6 linked regions of the Homo sapiens genome follow. The protein of the gene in region 3 binds, or shares a complex with, the protein of the main gene of each other region. Each region holds a gene or a part of one and is shown on either strand. Other genes may lie near its edges. A codon is read from its position in the direction of its gene.

Region 1 (3,500 bases), on a different chromosome or scaffold from region 3:
ACTCTTACATGACTAAAATGGGAACGTACTGTTAATATAATTTTGTAACTTTTTTCATTAATATCTCTGATAAATATCTTTCAATATTATTTCAGCACAGTAGTCTGCTATACCATGGCACACATTTAATAACTAATTCTCTGTTGTACAGTTGGTTGTTTCCAGTTATTGATCACTATAAATAATGCTGTGATAATCCCTGAGGCTAAGTCTTTATGCACATTCAAGACTATTTCCTTATACGTTCCTAGAAGTAAAACTGTTAAGGTAGAAGATATTCTTTTCCCTTTTATCACTTATAATAGCCAGTATAACACTAGATAGTATGCAATAATTTTATGCAGTTGAGACCCCAGAATAAGTAAGCAAAGTACTAGAGAAACTTCTTTGAAGATGTTCAAGAAAAGACAGACAAATGTTGGCACTTCCTATCCTCTCATAACATTCAGTATCTCTCTTAATTGCCCAGGAAGGCCTAAGTATAATTTTACCTAAAGCAGGAGATGAATGTTACAATCTCTTAAAGAGTTTCTACAGCTAGCAAATTTACCTTATTTTGGAGAAATAAAACCTGTTATACCAGAAAAGAAAGAATAAAAAGGTAACTTTCTCAGAAGTATCTCTGTACTCTTACCTTTTGTTGGAACTGAAGAAATCCCAAACCTGAAGAAGGAAAAACAAACTAAATTTTAGGAAGCTGTTCACACTCCTGGTTTGTCTGTCTCCGTGTCAAGTATACATATGACACTTCTTGCTTGTGATCTCAAGCCTTGCAATCATTAGCTAATTCTAACAACCCCATGAAAGAGGTTCAGAAATTAAGCTAAAAGGAAGCCTTATCAGAATTAGTAGTAGTCAGTTCCTGGCTTTAACTGTTACAAAAACCCTTCTCAATAAAGCTCAATTTATAGCTACTATAACCAAATCAGTAGACATGTTCTGAATAGGGTCAAAAAAGTGTTCATATCCTTCAGCAAGCCTCTATTCTACTTAAAATCAACAATTATACCTAAAAGCTAGGATCACACATCTTCATCTTTACAACACCCCTATCAGAGGCCCAAAAGGCTGGGGACACTCACCTAGCTGCCCGAGCAGCTTTCTTACTCTCCAAGCTCACAGGTACATTGAATCGTTCAGCCCTCTTCTGCATTCTCTAAGTAAAAATAGACAAAAGGGAGAAAAAAAAGTCAATTTATGGTTTAAGAAAGTCAGTCAGAGGTAGGTATCTTTAAAAAAAAAAAAAAAAAAAAAAAAAAGAGTCTCACTCTGTCCCCCAGCCTGGAGTGCAGTGGCATGATCTCGGCTCACTGCAACCTCAGCCTCCTGGGTTCGAGCGATTCTCGTGGCTCAGCCTCCTGAGTAGCTGGGATTACAGGACTGTGCCACTGTGCCCAGCTAATTTTTGTGCTTTTAGTAGAAATGAGATTTCACCATGATGGCCAGGCTGATATTGAACTCCTGGCCTCAAGTGAACTGCCCACCTCAGCCTCCTAAACTGCTGGGATTACAAGCGTGAGCCACCTGGCCCAGCCAAAGGTAGGTATCTTAAAAACATCAGAAGTAATTTCTTAGGGTCTAAACTGAAAATACTGACAATCCTAGAAGATATCAGGTTGTGTCCATGCTAGGACTTAACGGCCCTTCCCACAAAGCAAACAAAAAAAGACTATTACTAGATGCCCTCAAAAACAAAAGGGAGAAATAAAGTAAAACCTACATTATGCATGAAGCCAAGAAGTCAAAAGCTATGTTTGGCTGACCTTTGAAAAGTGATCAAAGGAATAGCTTGGTTCCAACACCAATGGTATTCTTTCAGTTAGAAATGAGGCAGCATTGTTTTATGCCATTCTAAAAGAGTTTAATAATTCTCTACTTTGCAAGTATGATACTGAACACAAGATCTCAAATGGAACCTGGTTTCACAGTCCTGCACCACAGAAACCAGAGAAATTTCAATCTCAGCTACTGGCCAGTAGCAACATAAGAGTCACATCTACCAATACATTTTCAAGGTACAATCCTCCTAAATCTAATCCTAGGTTTGAAAACATCTCAAAGAGAGTCACTGTTAAGACCATAATATTACATATAAAAAGACTACAACTTCAAGAATGACTACCCCTACGCCAGCCAAATATTTTCCAAAGAGTAGCTGGCAGTGAAACGTATCAACACCAAAATCTGCCAATACTGATTTTCTGCCTGTGAATAAATTTTAGAGGATGATGCAGATATAATAAAGGGTAAGAGGGAGAGAGAAATGTAGAGACTGTTCTACTAGGGAGCAGAATACCTACCTCAGTCTGTGGTATTTCAGATGTAATTTTCACCACTTTCTTCTCTGCTGCCCTAGAAAAGAAAGAGATTTTTTAAAATGAGAAAACTGATATTCTAAACCACAACCTCAGAAATGTGTAAGAATTCACCTGAGTCACCATTCTCTGCCCTATTATCTCTCTGCCACCCCCTAAGCCAAAGAAACATGAAGTCCACTAGAGCTTTGGTTCCTTTAACTGTCATCTATTGAGAGGAAAGAGTTCAAATAACAAACTAAGCTTCTTTAGCTAAAGTATAATAAAGAAATAAGGAAAGAAGTCTGGTTAAATATACTGGGCTGAAGGGAAACACTCAAAGGACACCAGAAACCATCTCATTTGCTTTTAGGAACTTTTCAATTTACTTTTATTTTTCTGAGACGGAGTTTTGCTCTTGTCGCCCAGGCTGGAGTGCAATGGCACGATCTCAGCTCACTGCAACCTCCACCTCCTGGGTTCAAGAGATTCTCCTGCCTCAACCTCCTGAGTAGCTGGAATTACAGGCACCTGCCACCACGCCGAGCTAATTTTTGTATTTTTAGTAGAGATAGGGTTTCACCATGTTGGCCAGGCTAGTCACGAACTCCTGGCCTCAAGTGATCCACCCACCTCGGCCTCCCAAAGTACTGGGATTACAGGCATCAGCCACCGAGCCCAGCCTTTAATTTACTTTTGAACTAATGAGTAACCCTCCAATCCTCCTTTAAGTACCACCTCCCAATGTTCATCACAACAATTAATAAGTACTCTACAAGGTCTGGTTTCCTTCTTTTAAAAATCCCTTATTTCTCCCATGGGGAATGTAGCTCTAGCTGGAACAGTCAAAGTGAAACAAATAAAAATGCCAAAGAAGGTAGGAAGAAAAAAGTCTAAGGGGAGTTTGAATTAGGAAAACATGGTAAGCTAGTGGTCAAAGGTTTAAGAGGAAACAAAAGAGGGGGGACCACAGGGGCGGGAGACAAAGTTCGGAAGTACCCACGATAAATGGAAGGGCATTAACCCTCCACCAAACAACTCCCATAAAACTGTGGGTCATAACCAGTCTCATTAAGGTCCCTCATTTAGAGACATGGGCAGCTTTTGTTCCAATATCCTGAACACTTTTCCCATTTGATGCCCTGAAAGGTAGTAATGGTTTAATGACATTTTCAGAGGAAGCAATTCTGGAATAAGAACTTACTC
Region 2 (4,123 bases), on a different chromosome or scaffold from region 3:
CTGGGTTCACGCCATTCTCTCGCCTCAGCCTCCCGAGTAGCTGGGACTACAGGCGCCTGCCACCACACCAGGCTAATTTTTTTGTATTTTTAGTAGAGACGGGGTTTCACCGTGTTAGCCAGGATGGTCTCGATCTCCTGACCTCGTGATCCGCCCGCCTCGGCCTCCCAAAGTGCTGGGATTACAGGCGTGAGCCACCGTGCCCGGCCAAGCCAAGATTTTAAACCCAGATTTGACCCCAAAGCCCCCTTTTCTCTTACACCAGCATTTCTCAACTCCAGCCATTCGCATGCCAACATCACAATTTTTGTCCTATCCATTAAACACTATACTTTTCTTTATTCAAGATTTTTCTTAAAATTGATTCAAAAAAGTTTACTTAAATAAATTTAGCAGCCAGCTGTGGAGGCTCAAGCCTGTAATTCCAGCACTTTGGGAGGCCAAGGTAGGCAGATCACTTGAGTCCAGGAGTTCAAGATCAGCCTGGGCAATATGGCAAAACCCGTCTCTACAAAAAATTAGCCAGGCATGGTGGCATGTGCCTGTAGTCCCAGCTACTCAGGAGGTTGAGGTGAGAGGATGGCTTGAGCCCAGGTGGAGGCTGCAGGGAGCCAATATTGTGCCACTGTACTCCATCCTGGGTAACAGGGCAAGACCCTGTCTCAAAAATAAAAATAAAATAAAATAAATAAAAATAAAATAAATTTAGCTTCAACTGAATAATAAATTCTATGTGCTAGTTCTTCTAGTAGACATTAAGATATTTGCAAAACTGGTTTTTAATGTTCACCCACGCATCACCTGAATCACTCATGGATCAGCAGCTGTATACTTGGGGAAAAACCACACCATTCCGCCTCCAGAGATAAGTCTTGTCAACAAAGTCCAGTGGCCCACACTGAACACATCAATTAAAAATCTCACCAACTTTTTCCATTCTAAAACGCATATTTTCTCACATTTTAGTATCTACACTGTATCTTAAAATGTATCAGAAAGCATTTCAAAATTTTGGGTGTATCACAGTTATTTACCAACTTTCTTTCCTAATGGAACATCTTACGATCAATGAAAACTCAGAGTCCCATACAATATCGGCCTCAATACTTACAACAGAGCCTATAAATGTACTGCACAACTTTCTCCCAGATCACCAAGACCATCCAAGTTTCAACCATTCTAACTCATCAGAATTTTCCAAATTCTCCATGCCTTTGCACATGCCGTTCCCTCCTGGAAATGTCCCATTCCCCACCCACAGCACCCTGACCACTCAACTCCTATGGCTACCCTAAAAGTTTGCTCAAATTTGGTGAGGCCTTCCCTGGCTCCCCTAGGCAGACTTTTGTTTTCATTTCTATTCTGGGTATCCACCTTGCAGACCTCTCCATTATAAAATGAACCATATCTTGCTATGTTATTTGTATATATATGTCTTCTCCCCGCAGGGGAGGTCCTTGGAGCTGGAAACTCTTATTCAGCTCAGGATGTCTCATACACAGCTGAGTGCCAAGCACAGAAAAGATATTCGGAAAATGGTTGTTGAATGAATCCAAACAGCTTATCTTCCTATTGCCCTCTCTCTGAATAGTCACCTTTAGTGTTCACAGTGGCAATGCATTTTGTAGTCCTCACATCCCAGATGCGAATGGTTTTATCTCCGGACGCCGTAACAAATAGGTCAGGATTACTTGGATGCCAACAAAGCTGGTCCACACTATCCCCATGTCCCCGATAATTGTTTTCTTTGACCTGAAAGAACAGAATCCAGATGTGACTTCACATAGATGTAACTGCCTCCGCATGTAACTTTATAAGCTTATTCAAACCAAAGTATGCTGGGACCAGTAAAGATCTGGGTAATTCAGAATCCAGTTCCTCCAAGCCCTTTCTCCCTTCTCTTCTCCGCAGGCCTTCTGAACTGTTTTTCTCAGCTTCCACACCTATGCCCTTACTTTTGTGCCCTCCCTGGCCTTCTCCTCCTTCCTGGTTTTCCACCCTTACTCTACCACCAACGTACCACCAACGTACCACCACCAACGTACCACCACCACCACCACCACCACCACCACAGCCCCTAGCCACTTCTTATCAGCACAGGATTCGACTCCAAACCAGTAAGGCTCCCATCGCAGCCCTGTCCCATCCACCCTCTCCTCACCTTCACCCGCCATCGCCAACCTCCTTACTTCCACACTCTTCACACGCCCCCAGTCTTCCTCTCCTCACCCCTCACGACCCCGTCACCCCCACACTCCACCTTCTCCCTACTCCCTCCTCATCTCCACACTCCCCCTTTCCCCTTCCCTCAAACCCACTCTCCTTTCACCCCCGCGGCTCCGTTCGCCCCCATTCGCTCTCCCACTACCGCACCTCACTTCACCACGGCCCCTCTCCCTAGCCTGAGCCGAGCCCCGGCAGCTCACCAACCGGTCCTTCTCCAGCAAGAAGACGCTGGCCGTCTTGTCGAAGGACCCCGAGGCTAGGCGACGCCCGTCGCAACTCCAGGCCACCGAGTGCACCTTGGCGCTGTGCGCCAGGAACTCGCGCGTCTTGCTGTGGCCCCGGAACAGCTCCTGCATCCCAAGCACGTAGCGCGACGGGCCGCTGCTCACTGAGCACCACGGGGCCATCGAGCCGGGGCCGCTCTGGCCCAACGCCGAGGGCCCCATGGCTGCAGCGGGGACCGCCATGCCGAGCTCCCCAGCTTCCAACTCACAACACTGCAGCAGCCTCCACGGCGCAGTCAGTCCTGGCGCCGCTGCCGCACGCATGCGCCCGGAAGAGCGACGGCCCCTCTGCGCAGGCGCGCTGTACCCCGCCCCGGAAGGGACTACAAATCCCGGTATGCAGCGCGTGCCCGCGTCTGCTTACTTAGTAATATTTGGTTCTTTTAACTCCAAATATGCTTCACACTTAACGATTCCGAGTTTTTTTAGTGTTCTTATTTCTCCCTTACCTATTCTTTGGTAGATATATGTGTATTCCTGTTTAATCGAATAAAAGAACCAACACTAACCTTCTAAACAGTTAACTCATCACCTTTCTTCTGGGGTTGTTCCGTAATCCCTAGTCCCCTCCCTTAAGAGCAGAAAGCTCTGGTCTTTTTGCTGGAGAAGGACCAGCTGGTGAGCTTGTCCCATGAAAAGGGCTAGCGGGTGTGGAGTGAGGGAAGAGGTGTTAAGAAGGGGTCTGGAGGTTTTGTTTTTTTTTTTTAAATAAAAATGGATTTTTTGTTTTTAAAAGGTAATGGCAGAGGCGTGTGAACCAGAGCAACTCTATCTTAAATAGGAACTGGGTAAAATGAGGCTTAAACCTACTGGGCTGCATTCCCAGACTGTTAAGGCATTCTAATCACAGGATGAAATAGGAGGTCAGCACAAAATACAGGTCATAAAGACCTTGATGATAAAACAGGTTGCAGTAAAGGAACCGGCCAAAACCCACCAAAACCAAAATGGCGATGAGAGTGACCTCTGGTCATCCTCACCTCTACACTCCCACCAGTGCCAGGACAGTTTGTAAATGCCATGGCAATGTCAGGAAGTTACCCTATACGGTCTAAAAAAGGGAGGCATGAATAATCCACCACTTGTTTAGCATATCATCAGGAAAAACCATAAAAATGCGCAACCAGCGGCCCTCGGGGCTGCTCTGTCTATGGAGTGGCCATTCTTTTATTCCCTTTACTTTCTTAATAAACTTGCTTTCACTTTGCACTGCGGACTTGCCCTGAATTCTTTCCTGAGTGAGATCCAAGAACCCACTCCTGGGGTCTGGATTGGGACCCTTTTCCTGTAACAGTATTACATGCACATGATTGTAAATATAAAAATAAAAGATATAGAGTGAAAAGTAAATGTCCACCTGCGTATCCACCCCACCTCTCATATCTCCCTTAAACCAGTGGCTTCTTGCTGGAGAAAAAAGGGGTGGTGAGCTGCCAGCGCCAGTCAAGGCCCTGGAGAAGAGCTGAGGGGGGAAGGTTTTGGTGGTGAGTAGTAGTGGTAAATGTGTTTAAAAACCCAATTTTTAAAAGGCAACACGTGCACTTGGTAACAAATGTAAAATGTATAAAAGGGAATAGATTGAAAAGCTTCCCTCCATCCTGTGTCCCCAAACT
Region 3 (4,165 bases):
TTGCCTCAGCCTCCTTCACTGCCATCTTGCCCTCCAACCAGCCACCTGCTTACCCCAAAGTCGAACAGCTCCATCCTCGCCACCTGACAGCACCTCTGGGCTCCTTTCCCGCAGTGCCAGGCAGTGGATGTAGTCTGTGTGGCCCCGGAGGACCCTCTGCATGTAGAGGGGCGATGTCAGGAGGAGACCTAGGAAGAGTGCCTCTCCCTGACCTAGACCTGCTCTAGGGCTCCAGGACCCTGCTCACCGTGAAAGTCCCAGTTTCAAGGTCCATAGTGTGCAACTGACAGTCTCCCCCAGCCAGGATGAGGGAATTCTCCTGTGGAGGAGCAGGATGAGGCAGAAAGTCAATGTCAAATCAGGATAGGCAGAGGGTGAAGGATCAAAGTTTGGACCAAGAACAGTCACATGGGGCTCAGACCTTGGGGACCAGCAGCAAAGCGTTGATCTCAGGCACTTCCAGGCTGGTCCTGGGGAAGGAAAGGCAAGGTCAGTGAGGAAGTGGCTTCACCCTGATGCACCCTCTATCCACGTGGCCCTGCTCACCTGTATGGAGGCTGACGACGCCACAGCTCCTTACAGCCCTTCAAAAGAGAAAATACCAGGTGACCTCAAAGGCTCTCTCTGGGTCCAGGCACCCCAGCCCTTTCCCAAGCTCGACTCCTTACCTTCTTGAGCATCTCCGCCCAAAGCCAGGCCTTCACCTCCCCATCCCCAGCACTAAGCAGATGTCGATCGGTGGAAACCATGCTATAGACGGGCCCATCATGGGCTAAAGAGAAATGCAGAACTGAGTGAGCCAATCCCACCCAAAGTCCTGAAGCCAGACTCCACAGGTATACCCACCTTGGAAAGTCACCACCGGCTTCTTACTTTCCTCTTTGGCTTCTGAGCTCAAAGCAGAGGACAAGCTGCAGGGACAGCGGAGGGGACCCAGGAGTCAGAAACGGGGGCATCCGTCCCATGAGGGCCAAGTGCCAGGGCTAATGGGTGGACAGCGGCAGAGGGTACCTGAAGATGGCAATCTGCCCGTAATTGTTGCCAGCCGCCAGAAACTTCCCACATGGTGAGACGCTCTGGGAGAAGATGGTCATATGGAGCCGCTGCAAGGCCTGGAACACCTCTGTCTGCAGGGAAAGACTGGATGAGGCCTGCCTGGGACGTATGAAACCTCCCATCCACAGATTCCTCCCTGCTTCCCCCAAAACCTGCCAGGCCTCCCACTGTCCTGACTTCTCAGCCTTCTTTTGAGGCGGCCCCGCCCCAAGCCAGCACCTGCCCATGCAGTCCCATGGGTGGCTCCAAGAAGACACTGAAGAAGGGGAGAGTTGAGGTGATGCCTCAGGGACCTCTGAGCAAGCACCCAGGCCTCTCCTGCCAGCTTCCTCAACTGACAAATGGAGCTCACAGAAGATTCCATCACAATTAGATGAGCTAGTGTATAGACAAGAGCTTTACATGGGGCTGTCACTCAGTGCTTAAGCCGGGTGTGGTGGTTCATGCCTGTAATCCAGCGCTCTGGGAGGCCAGGAGTTTGAGAGCAGCCTGGGCAACATAGTGAGACTCTGTCTCAAAAAAAATTTAAAAATGTGGGGCCGGGCGCAGTGGCTCACGCCTGTAATCCCAGCACTTTGGCAGGCCAAGGCAGGTGGACCACCTGAGGTCAGGAGTTCAAGACCAGCCTGACCAACATGGAGAAACCCTGTCTCTGCTAAAAATGCAAAATTAGCTGGGAGTGGTGGCGCATGCCTGTAATCTCAGCTACTCAGGAGGCTGAGGCAGGAGAATTGCTTGAATCTGGGAGGCGGAGGTTGCGGTGAACCCAGATGGAGCCACTGCACTCCAGCTTGGGCAACAAGAGTGAAATTCCATCTCAAAAAAAAAAAAAAAAAAAAAATTTGGCCGGGCGTGGTGGCTCACACCTGTAATCCTAGCACTTTGAGAAGCCAAGGCAGGCAGATTACCTGAGGTCAGGAGTTCGAGACCAGCCTGGTCAACATGGTGAAACCCTGTCTCTACTAAAAACACGAAAATTAGCTGGGCATGGTGGCACACGCCTATAGTCCCAGCTACTTGGAGGGCTGAGGCAGGAGAATCGCTTGAACCTGGGAGGCGGAGGTTGCAGTGAGCTGAGATCGCGCCACTGCACTCTAGCCTAGGTGACAGAGTGAGACTCTGTCTCAAAAAAAAAAAAAAAGTGCTTTGCAAGAACTAGAAAATTAAAAAAAAAAAAAAAGTACCTCTACTACCCCAACATAGAAAAACGTACTGATTTATAATTCCTACTCTCTGACTTGCGTTAAGCCCCTGAAGCACTTCTGGGTTACTATCCCGCCCCCCTGGTCAGAGTCTGAGTCCCACAAATAGCCCAGGCAAAACAGGGCTCAGGGCACGATTCCCTGCCCGCCCCGTCCCAGCCATGCGTGAACTACAAACCCCAGAAGGCAACGCGCACCACGTCCGTCTCACCTGACCCAGAGGCACCGCGAGCGGCACAGCTCGCTCCATCTCCAGAACTACAAGTCCCAGAGTGCTCCGCGCGCGACGCAACCTCACGAGGCCTTACGTGCCTAGAGCGGTTCCTCTCCGTGGCGCCCTACCGCCTTCGGCGCGAAGGTGGCTGGTGCGTACCGTCCCGAACCCTAGGAGCCGAGGTGAGCGCCGCGAAGACCCCCGACATTAAGAAGTGGTGTCCACCGCAGCCCCCTTAAGCCGGATACCCTCCCCCACCCCGAGGAGCAAGCCTGCCTTCCGCCACGCGCCGCCCGTCTTCCGCGCCCGCGCAGAACCTCGCGGCTGTGCCCGCCTAAAGCCACGCCCATCCTCTCTTGGCCACGCCCTCAGAGACTCCTCCCCTGTCGCCCAGATCCCACCCGCAGGACCCCAAAACCCAATGATCCTGCAGCAGCCCTTGCAGCGAGGCCCCCAGGGAGGGGCCCAGCGCCTCCCGCGGGCCGCCTTGGGGGTGACTTGGGGCCTGGACGCCAGGTGCGTGTAGGGGACCAGGGTGGGCCTGACCAAGGGCCGCAGGAGCTTTGGCTGGGTGCTCAGGACTGGTCTGCAGGATGAATACGGGGTGGGGCGAATCGGCGGGGCTTAGGCGTGAGCTGAGATGGGACTGGGGCTGCGGCTGAGGGTCGAGACTTCCGAGGTACCCTGCTGGATGGTCCAGGAGAGCGGGGACCGGCACCAGCTGAGACAGGAATGGGCTTGGGGCTCCTGGCTGATGCTGCAGGCTTAGGCGGGCAGATCCTTGGGAAGGGGCCAAGAGGGTGGGGTGCACCAGGCTCTCTTTTTTTCCCAGCTCCCCTCTCCGAGGAGCTGTGCCCATGAGCACCAAGCGGCGCCTGGAGGAGGAGCAGTGAGTTTGGGGGCAGGGAGGGACTCCCAACAAGATCTCTGTCACCTCTGGTCCCCAACAGGCTGCCTCCTGTGTCAGTATCCCAGCCTGCCTCTCTGCCATCTCTCCCCAGGGAGCCTCTGCGCAAGCAGTTTCTGTCTGAGGAGAACATGGCCACCCACTTCTCTCAACTCAGCCTGCACAATGACCACCCCTACTGCAGCCCCCCCATGACCTTCTCCCCAGCCCTGCCCCCACTCAGGTAGGTTCCTCCACTGGCCAGGCCTTCTGCAGAATCACAGGCGGTCCTCACAGCTGACCTCAGGCCCTGCCTCATCGTGCCATTTTTAGCTCTAGCTGACCTCTGGGTTGTTTCCCATCTTGGCTCTTTGGAAAGTGCTGGGAACCCAGGAGCCCCTGGGGACCTGGACCTGGTGGGAGGTGCTCAGCTAGGCCAGCCTCAGCTCCATGCCCTGACAGTCATTTCCTCTTCTAGGAGCCCTTGCTCTGAGCTGCTTCTCTGGCGCTATCCTGGCAGCCTCATCCCTGAGGCCCTCCGTCTGCTGAGGCTGGGGGACACCCCCAGTCCCCCCTACCCTGCAACCCCAGCTGGGGACATAATGGAGCTCTGAGTGCTGGTGGACAGTGCCCCTCCCACCTTCCTTCTTCCCCACAACAGAAGAGACCAGCGACTCCCGCAAAGGGACAAGGTTCCTCCCTCTCCTGCAGAGTAGGCATCTGGGCACCAAGACCTTCCCTCAACAGAGGACACTGAGCCCAACGGAGTTCTGGGATGGGAGGGGTGGGAGCATGGGAAGGGAGGCA
Region 4 (3,500 bases), on a different chromosome or scaffold from region 3:
CTAAGCTCTAAACCAGAAGGCTCCCATGAGATTTAGTATTAACAGCAGCAACATCATTAAACTCTTTCCCAATCTGGGTCATGAGGTCACAAGACAAACATCAATAAATTTCAAAGGCAAGATTATCAATAAGAGCCAGTTAGTTAACTGATAATAATTCCATCTTGCTCTCTACCTTAAGCAAAAAAAGTCATCTCTGGTTCTCCACAGGCACCAAATGTGACATTGAATTTATTTGGTTTCAGAGCCAATGCCCAGCTCCAAGTCTCACCACCCTCTTAACTCTACTTCATCTTTGTATCTCTCTCTCTCTTCTATATTCTCATGTGACTCAAACCAGGATTTGGAGCTACAGGGTGGTATGTGGTGGTGATGGTGGTGGGACAGGGGCAGAGAAAGGCAAAACCCTAAACTGACCATTTTGGGGGGTATTTTCAACTATACAATTTAAATTTGCAAGAGCTTGGAGGAAGATGGCATATAATCTGGCTCTATAATATGCACTTGATTGATTCTTGGAAAAATCATGAGACTTTTGCACTACCAGCATGGTAATTTGAAAAATAAGCCAGTTTCAAATAACAAAACAAGACAAACAAAGAAGCCTGCCTATGACTTGAAGCTGTGCAGAAAGGTGGCTCTGAGTTTTTAAGGGAGGAAAGTAAGGGGGAGCTACTCTCTGAAGTTGGTAGCTGACTAACCTCTACCACCGATTCCGCCACGACCCATAGCTCCACGCCCTAGGCCCCCTCTCCCAGGACCTCCACGACCTCGAACACCACCTCTTCTTAAGCCCATTCGGGGAGCTACGGCTCGTCCACCTCGGAGCAGGTTTTGACCTTAGAGAGGAGGCATACAATGTATATGCAGGTAAATCCAAGAGACACAAAGTAGATTCTAACCAAAGGAAGGCGGTGAGGGTTAAATGAAGGTAATTCAGTTAGTTTTTAGGTTGGCTGGGGCAAGCTGCATACTGTGAACAGATTAAGCTACTCTTTATTCAATCAATTCAACAAGTCTGACCACAAATCCATTTTTGGAAGTTGGGAGTTAATTCAATTAGTAAGTACATACATTTAATAAATATCTACTGAATAATCAGATAGATGCCTAGCATTATGGTAAATTTAAAAATAAATGCTATGGTTCCTGATCTCAACAGATTCTTCTAGGGAACAAGAACTATACAGGGAACAGAGTAATAGTGCCCCAAATGAACATATATAGGTAAGTGCTGTGGGTCAACTTGTCCTCTTTTTCCAGCTGTATCAGTGTTTTACTAGCACCAGGAACAAAGAGATATAGGCCAAAAGACCTATAAATTTCTTATGTTTGACTTGTTTCTAGAACTTGAATGTGCTTTGATTCAAGCAACAGCAGGGTGTTTTAAAATGGAATGGAGATGACATGAATTACCTGTTGTTACGCAGGTCATAGCCTCTCACCATTGCACATTATCAGAAAAGGAATGGTATTGATAAAAGACATGCAGCACTATTAAAAATATGTGATTTCAGAAGTTATTATATTAATACAAATTCAGGCTTAAAGATGTTAAACAAACGTGTCCATAAGCAGCCCAAGAGAAAAGGGAAGGGAGTAGGGCCCGACAATTATCAGGGTACACAGCACTGACCTCGGAGTGACATCCCGCCCCTAAGTAGGGTTCTGGTGGCACGTCCCCCACGTAGTCCTCCTCTGGGCAAGCCTCTCTGGATTATGGGTAGGCCTCGTCCTCCGATTGCTCCCCTGGCCAGGGCCCCTATGGGTCGGCCTAACCGTGCCTGGATGTTACTCTTACCCAGGCGCTGCTTTAAGCTCTTCTGGAAGAAAAGGTGTTAGGGGATTGAGATCAAAAAAGCAATCCAACAGGATTTGGCAACTCAAAGTGCAGAGAAAAAGAAGCAAGTGAGATGCTGGTGTGAAGGGAGATAAACCTGTTGTGGGTGTCAAAAGGATCCCAAACCAGAAGCAAGCCTTTGCCTCAGAACATGTTATACAAGCAGCAGAATTTTGATCCAGAGCAGAAACTCCAAGAAGCTCAAGTGTGGTCCCATGAAATGGGCATCTCCACAAATTACCTCACTAGTTTGGCTACAGAAGTCATACACTGCCAGTTGAAACTTAAGTTTTCGTAAGAACATTCTATAGTTCAATCCTGGATTGTACTGCTTTTGAACTACAGGTTGACAATTATATGACTTGATTCATACCTGCCCATGGACTACCACTGTCTTCAAAGGCTTACTCAAACACCATAGGAAGTTCATCACACTCTGGGCAAAACTTAAATTACAAGTTCACTTGAGTTCTTGTGACTTAAGAACAAGATTGATTTCTCAAAAAGGCCCGTGTGCTCCATTTTTCCTCTGAGAATCTATTTCCAGACGGTCCACTTTTTACCTTAAGATGTAAATAAACACAAGAAAGTCAAATCTCCTTTCCTTACATTTCTTAAAAATCCCTAATTCCATGCCTGCACTTGCAAACAGCTCCTTTAAAACAATGATGACCTTAAATTAAAAATAAACATGTAACTCAAATGTATCTCCACAGTCAGCCAGCCAAACGTATGTTAGAATTATTCAGGTGATCACAAAACTCAGGGCCATATATAAGAACAAGGACACACTACAGAGATAGGGTATTTTTAAGAATCTGTTCTCAAAAGAAAACCATTAAGACTACATCTCAGAGAATTAAATTCCTTCAAAGGAAAAAGGGACAGCAATAGCCCTGAACACAACCAAGCTCCTAGTAAGCCTGGCTGTCCATAAAGCCATCAGTCAATCTGAAAGAAAATAAATTGTATAGCCCCTTCAGGCTTCACCCACAAGTGACTACCAACGTGTATGTGTGTGTTTTCTAATCAACCTCTCAAAAAGATGCTGTGAAGCATTATTAACTTTCTAGCACAAGATCATAAATTGCTTCTCATCAGTGGGGAAGGCTCCAAACATTATGCATCTAGCATAAGTAGGTGTAACCAACCGTAACGGCCTGTCCTGTTACTCCCGATTAACACACAATTATCAGGTTAGAACTGCATTCCACAAGTCTCTTGCGTTCAGTTATCCTGCATATATTAATTCTCCCAAGCTTTGTGCTTTAAAAGAACTGTACAGTGCTGGGAAGTTCTTTACCCATTCCAATCCTTAAGTGCCACCAATACCGGCCTTTAATATTAACAGGGAAGTTAAGGATGTCAACTATACCACTTAGTTTCCCTTCTAGAGGTGTGCTGTGTAAGGCAGCCTCTATAGCTACATGTGGCTATTTCAATTATTTTTATTTTGAGATACAGTCTCGCTCTGTTGCCCAGGCTGAAGTGCAGTGACACGATCTTGGCTCACTGCAACCTTCGTCTCCCAGGTTCAAACAATTCTCCTGCCTCAGCCTCCCGAGTAGCTGGGATTACAGGAGCTGTCATCACGCCTGGCTTATTTTTGGTGGAGACGGGGTCTTGTCATGTTGGCCAGGCTGGTCTTGAACTCCTGACC
Region 5 (3,500 bases), on a different chromosome or scaffold from region 3:
TTTTCCTTGTTCTTGTAGACATGCGTCGGGATGTCCAGGAAATTTTTCGCATGACCCCCCACGAGAAGCAGGTCATGATGTTCAGTGCTACCTTGAGCAAAGAGATCCGTCCAGTCTGCCGCAAGTTCATGCAAGATGTAAATACCCTTCTACCTTCTCTCCCTCCACTCCCCGCCCGCTGCCTCCTCCCCTTCCTCGCCCTCTTCCTCAGACTCCCTTGTCATTCAAGTGCCAAGAAGGCGGCTTGTGCCCAACTGGGAGTAATGACTCCTTGAAGAGACATACAGAAGCAGAGACAGCTAGTGTTAGGGCCTGCGCGGGTGCCAGGGAAACTCCGGAAGACTTGGTCGGGTTAATGTGAGAGCGGGTAGTGTTCGACTTTTTCATAAATCACAACATTTTTGAACCTCTTCTCCCTTTGGGGGAGGGCAGGATTTTTCTGCCCTACCACCCACCCATCCATCGTCTCTTACATGCACCCTACAGCCACGCACCCTCAAGGTGGCATCGAGCGTACAGCTGGAGCCTTCTGCTCACCAAAACTCCTACTTCCCGGTGGCAGGAGAGCAAGAGAGGGACAGACAGATGGCAGGGCATGTCCAAAAGAAGAGCATCAGCACAAATGAATCCTCCCCTTCCCCACCTCCAGGGGTGGGGGCCTTTGGCACCTCAATCCCCGATACCCTACTCCTTCCCACCCACATCTCCTTGCACCCATCTGGAACCTCGGTTGATGTGAGCCGGCAACAGAGAAGCACCGTGGCGCGGCGAGGGAATGCAGACGGCACCCAGCGGTGGATGGCGGCAGCGGAGGCCGCGGGGAAACCTGACCAGGAAGCTGAGGACCAAACCAGCCTCTTTTTCCGTTCCCGGTTTTTTTCCTGAACCCAACGCGTGCCGTGCCCCGTTTCCCCCAATATGTGTTGGGGAGGGGTGTCCTGAATGGGGTGGTAGATTTTTTTTCTTAAAAAAATTTTTTTGTTTTTTTTAATACTCAGAGGAGAGGGACATAGGAAAGGTAAAGTGGATGTAATCGGGTGGTTGTTAGGGTTTGGGGCTAGGTGGGGCCAATTGCATAAGCAGTGGAGTGTGTTCTTCCCCTCCCTGCAGTGTTCCTTCCCGTGGGATGATCACTCTTTAGCTGTATTTGGGGCTAGAATGAGATTTGAAGGAGGCCATGGAACTTCTCTTTAGAAAGCCTGCCTTGGCTGGGCCTGGTGGCTCACCTCTAATCCCAGCACTTTGGGAGGCCAAGGTGGGAGGATTGCTTGAGCCCAGGAATTTGAGACTAGCTGGGGCAGTGTAGTGAGACTTTGTCTCTACCAGAAAAACCGGGCGTGGTGGCGCATGCCTGTAGTCCCAGCTACTTGGGAAGCTGAGGCAGGAGGGTTTGCTTGAGCCCGGGACGTGGAGGTGGCAGTAAGCTGTAATTGTGCCACTGTACTCCAGCCTGGGTGATAGAGAGAGACCCTGTATCAAAACAAAACAAAAAACAAAACCTGCCTTCTGGGATTGGGCTTCTGGTTTTTTTCCCATGACACACGCATCCTTTCCTATTTTGTCCTCTGGGTCTTCATATTAACTATCTTCCCCCAGGATAGTATAAAAAGTGTTAGGAAAGTTGGGCTTTGGAGTTGTGGTAATTTCTGTCTTTGTTACTTTCCTCCCCTTCAGGGGGTTTTTTAATTTTAAAGATGAATGCAGTGAGGTATAATGGTGTGTGCCTGTAGTCCCAGCTATTCAGGAGACTGAAGCAGGAGGATCACTTGAGCCCAGGAATTTGAGGCTATAGTGTGCTATGATTGTGCCAGTGAATAGCCACTGCACTCCAGCCTGGGCAACATGGTGAGATCCTGTCCCTTAAAAGTGTATCTGCTGCTCTGAATTTGGTATTTTAACACCACTTACTGATACCTTTCCTGTAAACCTGTAGATGGTTTAATTCTTAGTCAAGAGACCAGTCTCATCTAAAACTATCCTGTTGTGGTCTGACGGCAAGTAACTCATCTTGAGTAATTTTTGTTTCTCCTTAAGTGGCATTTTGACTGTCCATTGCAGCATTCTGATCTTAAAAGACATCCACTTTGCTAATGCACACGAGATTCTCTTAGTTGAAGTAGGAGAATCAAATGGAGCAGTTGTCCTCCCCCCACCCCATGTTCTTAGAAGCACCTCTGATGGAGTTATTCTGACCTTGAGTCACTGCCTCCCATCATTTCCCAGATGTTTGGTCCTTGCTCTCCCTTTGAGAATCATCTCCCATTTTCTTTCCTCTCCCACCTCTATTTGAGGTAATGGCATCTGTGCCATTGGGTGGTTTCACTGCTCCTTGACTTCATTTGCAGTTTCTTTCCCATGATAGTTTTTAGTTGGGCAGTCTTAAAACTCATCTGATAGGAAGGAAATTAGATGTAATGTGAGAGAGACCACAGTAAAATGTGGGTATTTTTGGGAGTGGGGTGGGGTTTTCAATCTTCTCTTTCCTCCCCATCCCCCCATGGGGTGTATTGGAGATCAACTTCCTCCACCCCCCCAGGTTTAACCCCCCCACTCTGCCCTCCTCCCGTTCCCCACCCCCTTCCTCCCCCCCAGCCAATGGAGATCTTCGTGGATGATGAGACGAAGTTGACGCTGCATGGGTTGCAGCAGTACTACGTGAAACTGAAGGACAACGAGAAGAACCGGAAGCTCTTTGACCTTCTGGATGTCCTTGAGTTCAACCAGGTCAGTTAGACGTCCAGTAGGGGGATGAGCATTGGAGCACTCCAGCTGTAGCAGAAACCTGGATATTAAGTACACTTTTATTGAGGAAATCACATGTGTGATGTGGGAGAGAATAATGAGGGTATAAATATCTTAGGGGCTGAGCATGAGTAAGGTGGGAGCTGCTTTTCTATTCTATGGCTGGCACGGGTATGTCCTCAATAACCTCAAGGAAAATAAACTTCAAAAATTAAGATCCTTGGCCAGGCACGGTGGCTTATGTGTGTAATCCCAGCACTTGGGGAGGCTGAGGGAGGTGGATCACTTGAGTCCAGGAGTTTGAGACCAGTCGGGGCAACATGGCGAAACTTCATCACTACCAAAGAAGAAAAAAATTAGCCAGGTGTGGTGGTGTATGCCTGTAGTCCCAGATACTCTGGTGGCTGAGGTGAGAGGATAGCTTGAGCCCAGGAAATTGAGGCTGCAGTGAACTATGATTGCACTACTGTGCTCCAGCTTGGGCAACAGAGTGAGATCTTGTCTCCAAAAGTCCTTGAAGGATTTTAGGAAGTTGTTAAAAGTCTTGAAACGATGTTTGGGGGCATGTTAGGGTTCTTGAATGTTTAATTCCTCTAATAACTGCTTATTCAAGAGAAGCATTTCTGACTGGGTGCAGGGCAGTGGCTCATGCCCATAATCCCAGTACTTTGGGAGGCTGAGGCAGGAGCATTGCTTGAGCCCAGGACTTCAAGACCAGCCTGGGTAACATAGGGAGACGCCCGTCTCTACAAATAGTA
Region 6 (3,218 bases), on a different chromosome or scaffold from region 3:
ATTAAAGGTGTGAGCCACCATGCCTGGCCTACGCAAAACAATCTTAACAAACTATTTACTTCAAACACTCTTCACTTTATCAATACATCTTTTTCTATTGAAAATGATTCCTAAAGAACAAAACAGTAGAGAAAACAGATCAACAAAACATTTGAGAACCATATTCCTCTCATATTAAGGAGAGATATATAAAGTAATGTGCACTATTTTACTTTGCATCTTATAATTAACGTCCCATACCAGCGAATTTTAACAGCCTGGAACCTCTCTCCACAATAAGCATACACCACTAACATTTTGCATGTAATTTCACAGGTTCATGGTCCTCCTAAAGCCTCTTCATAGACTCCGTTTTCAGAAGTGTAACCATTTCCAGAAATTGGCTCATTTTCCCATGTACATCCTAGAAATGCCAACTTCTAACAATTTTCAACTTATTTTGTAAGCCAATCAATGTTACCAGTTAAAAACTACCTAGAATATTAATGAGCACAAACATATGCAGCTTAAAAGCATTTTATTAAGCATTTTTGGATGTTGCTTCCTACCACTTAAGAATAAAAAATGCATTTTAATAAAAACAAATCTATACTGAAGTCATTTTCCTTTGTGAGAGGAAATATGAATGAAATACATTCATACTTAAAAACAGAGTATTTTACTGCCAAAACTTTAAATATCTCAAGAGCATACCACATTTTAAACACATTATGGTCATGTAGCTATTTCAATATTCCTGGGAGTGGTGGGCAATTAGCCTGTCTATGGCTTAGGATCTGTTTCCATGCTTGCTTCCTGAGCTTCTTCTACCTCTGAGAGTTTTTCATCATCTGTAATTGAGAAGGAAACATAAAACCTTAGTCAAGTTTGCCTATATTTTATATTCGATGAACACATGAAAACATGTTTATCCTTTATTAGCCAATACAATTAAAGCTAAGATGGCTACTAGTTGAATCAAACTTTAAAATTTATGTGATAGACTTCACTTAAAAAAAAAAAAATCCAGGCAGGGTCTGGTGGCTCATGCCTATAATCCCAGCACTTTGGGAGGCCAAGGCAGGTGGATCACCTGAGGTCAGGAATTCAAGACCAGCCTGGCCTACATGGTAAAACCCCGTCTCTACTAAAAATACTAAAATTAGCTGGGTGTGGTGGCATGCACCTGTAATTCCAGCTACTAGGGAGGCTGAGGCAGGAGAATCACTTGAGCCTGCAAGGTGAGGATTGCAGTGAGCCAAGATTGTGCCACTGCACTCCAGCCTGGGTGACAGAGCAAGACTGTCTTAAAAAAAAAAAAAAGAAAAGAAAAAATGGGTCTTAGGCTATTCTTTAAAACAATCAGAAGATCAGGTAACACAAAAATTTCCACTTGCCTATAGTGAATATAAAGAGCAAGTCTCCAGTTCCCCAAAGCACCCACTACTCAGTGGGTATGCAAATGTTCGTATGTACTGATTTCTTATTATTGCCTGCCTGGGTCCTGAGTTGTTATATTATAGTAGTCAACTACAGTGAACCAAGAAAGATTCCAAATCTATCATCCTTGAATTTTTCTTAATTTAAACCACTATGTATATGTTTAAATCCTATATTACTACAAATTAAGACTTTTCTACATGTATTCAAGAAAGTTGAACATGAGTACCTTCTAACGTCATCCAGCTACACTGTTCAGAAATTGAAGGTATACTGTCTCTCCAAGATGTATATTTCAAAAGGTACATCCCTGGGTCATTTAAAAAATCTTCATAAGCATTTACTTTGAGACTATTTCTACTTACTTTCCAATGTTTGCTGAAGTTCATGGATGGTACTAAGAAGAACATGAAACTGTTTCCGTCTCAATTCCAGCTGTGTTAACAAGAAAAAAATTTATACAAATGACCTGTATATATAGATATATAGACAGACAGATAGACAGATCATGAAGGCTAAATATATATGCGAATACCTTATCTTCAACACTTTCTTTAATGTGTGAAAGATGCTCTAATTCTTTTCCCAGAGCCTCTAGTTCCCTGGAAATAATAAAACAGTGTTACATTTTGCTGAATGGGGGAGAAGAGTTTACAATTAATGCCTAACTTTTAAGTTACTAGATAGGATTTTTAAAATAAAAAAAGGGCTTATAAGGAGTTATAACACTCCATTATGGTGAAACTTTTAAAGCTGAGGATGATTTCTTCTTAACTTCTAAATATGGACTCACTTTCATTAAAATTACATTTTTGGATCCATTTTTAAAGTACAGAAAAATACAGATAACAGAATAACAAGACCCAAGAAATGATACATATTGTGAAGTTTAACTTCGAGGGTTTTTTATTTTGGTAAAAGAAATAAAACATTGCCAATTAACTCGAAATACCCTTTGAATCTTACGCCTAGTCCTCTATCCTGGGCCTTTTTATCTCCTCTACCTCCCACTCAGGCAACTACTATATCATTCTTATTCTTTTTTATGCATATACTTGTATCCCTGAATAATACACAGTATTGGTATATAATATTTGAAAGGGGGTTCTAACTTTTATAAATGGTTATTATTCTGTATGTGTTTCAGGAATTTAAATATAATTTAAAGTTTATTATGTGTCTTTTCACTGATTATGTTTTGAGAGCTGTGTTTTAAAAGGGCATAACTAGTTTATTCTTTTTAACTGAAATTCAATATTTTAATATATGAAGACCATATTCTATTTATCCATTGTGATATTGATGCATATTATATGCATTTATTTTAGACATATAGCTGGTAAGGTTAGAGGAAAATAAAATCTAACAGAGAAGTATGGGAAAATATAATATTGAATATCTGACCCCTCCTTTTGAAACATATTTATTTCTGCAAAAATGAAATGCCTACGGTAGTTTTCGAGCATTTATGTATAAAGGTTAGTTCCTTTCAAAGTAAAGCTCTACACTTACTTTAATGTCTCATGCCTGTCTGGATGGTGCTGAATCACTTTTGCCAAAGCATCATATTCTGTAAGACATAAAAATATTTATCAAACTAAGGATTTTTTGAATGTGAATTATCAAAACAAAATGTGTAATATCACAAACCTCTCCTAATCACTTTCCTAGTACATCAAGAAATGAAATCACTGAAAGATGAGTATTGCCAGTTTTAGTTAACTGAGTTATAATTATAACGATACATAACATCAAAAGTGTTCCAAACAGGGGTTTTAGCTCCCACTTTTTTTCCATTT

The links.
Region 1: THOC6 (region 3) and SARNP share a complex: the UniProt entries of both Homo sapiens proteins name them as parts of the transcription/export (TREX) complex.
Region 2: THOC6 (region 3) and THOC3 share a complex: the UniProt entries of both Homo sapiens proteins name them as parts of the transcription/export (TREX) complex.
Region 4: THOC6 (region 3) and CHTOP share a complex: the UniProt entries of both Homo sapiens proteins name them as parts of the transcription/export (TREX) complex.
Region 5: THOC6 (region 3) and DDX39B share a complex: the UniProt entries of both Homo sapiens proteins name them as parts of the transcription/export (TREX) complex.
Region 6: the proteins of THOC6 (region 3) and THOC7 are in contact, whole or in part, in a cryo-EM structure (PDB 7APK), measured with the Homo sapiens proteins. Residues at the interface, in NP_001334633.1 of Homo sapiens: Asp229, Trp232, His245, Thr252, Gln268, Asp269, Gln284, Leu285, Ser286; in NP_079351.2 of Homo sapiens: Lys110, Arg113, Lys114, Gln117, Glu118, Ala121 (codon at 2,981), Leu122 (codon at 2,978), Val125 (codon at 2,969).

The regions. Positions count from the first base shown.
Region 1 is NC_000012.12:55,793,725-55,797,224, forward strand, and holds part of SARNP (SAP domain-containing ribonucleoprotein), read right to left. Parts: intron 2,353-3,500; coding exon 2,301-2,352; intron 1,157-2,300; coding exon 1,083-1,156; intron 664-1,082; coding exon 635-663; intron 1-634. UniProt on the Homo sapiens protein: Binds both single-stranded and double-stranded DNA with higher affinity for the single-stranded form. Specifically binds to scaffold/matrix attachment region DNA. Also binds single-stranded RNA. Enhances RNA unwinding activity of DDX39A.
Region 2 is NC_000005.10:175,965,516-175,969,638, forward strand, and holds the start of THOC3 (THO complex subunit 3), read right to left. Parts: upstream 2,801-4,123; 5' UTR 2,694-2,800; coding exon 2,427-2,693; intron 1,753-2,426; coding exon 1,596-1,752; intron 1-1,595. UniProt on the Homo sapiens protein: Component of the THO subcomplex of the TREX complex which is thought to couple mRNA transcription, processing and nuclear export, and which specifically associates with spliced mRNA and not with unspliced pre-mRNA.
Region 3 is NC_000016.10:3,022,670-3,026,834, reverse strand, and holds the start of THOC6 (THO complex subunit 6), read right to left. Parts: upstream 2,801-4,165; 5' UTR 2,509-2,800; coding exon 2,470-2,508; intron 1,128-2,469; coding exon 1,012-1,127; intron 912-1,011; coding exon 847-911; intron 773-846; coding exon 669-772; intron 585-668; coding exon 547-584; intron 471-546; coding exon 422-470; intron 320-421; coding exon 248-319; intron 157-247; coding exon 54-156; intron 1-53. Other genes in the region: HCFC1R1 (host cell factor C1 regulator 1), read left to right, coding at 2,894-2,988, 3,305-3,361, 3,474-3,602, 3,837-3,972. UniProt on the Homo sapiens protein: Component of the THO subcomplex of the TREX complex which is thought to couple mRNA transcription, processing and nuclear export, and which specifically associates with spliced mRNA and not with unspliced pre-mRNA.
Region 4 is NC_000001.11:153,640,566-153,644,065, reverse strand, and holds part of CHTOP (chromatin target of PRMT1 protein), read right to left. Parts: intron 1,824-3,500; coding exon of another isoform or gene 1,821-1,823; coding exon 1,637-1,820; intron 840-1,636; coding exon 702-839; intron 1-701. UniProt on the Homo sapiens protein: Plays an important role in the ligand-dependent activation of estrogen receptor target genes. May play a role in the silencing of fetal globin genes.
Region 5 is NC_000006.12:31,532,004-31,535,503, reverse strand, and holds part of DDX39B (spliceosome RNA helicase DDX39B), read left to right. Parts: intron 1-18; coding exon 19-137; intron 138-2,592; coding exon 2,593-2,724; intron 2,725-3,500. UniProt on the Homo sapiens protein: Involved in nuclear export of spliced and unspliced mRNA. Component of the TREX complex which is thought to couple mRNA transcription, processing and nuclear export, and specifically associates with spliced mRNA and not with unspliced pre-mRNA.
Region 6 is NC_000003.12:63,833,370-63,836,587, forward strand, and holds the end of THOC7 (THO complex subunit 7), read right to left. Parts: intron 2,990-3,218; coding exon 2,932-2,989; intron 2,022-2,931; coding exon 1,955-2,021; intron 1,855-1,954; coding exon 1,785-1,854; intron 831-1,784; coding exon 763-830; 3' UTR 501-762; downstream 1-500. UniProt on the Homo sapiens protein: Component of the THO subcomplex of the TREX complex which is thought to couple mRNA transcription, processing and nuclear export, and which specifically associates with spliced mRNA and not with unspliced pre-mRNA.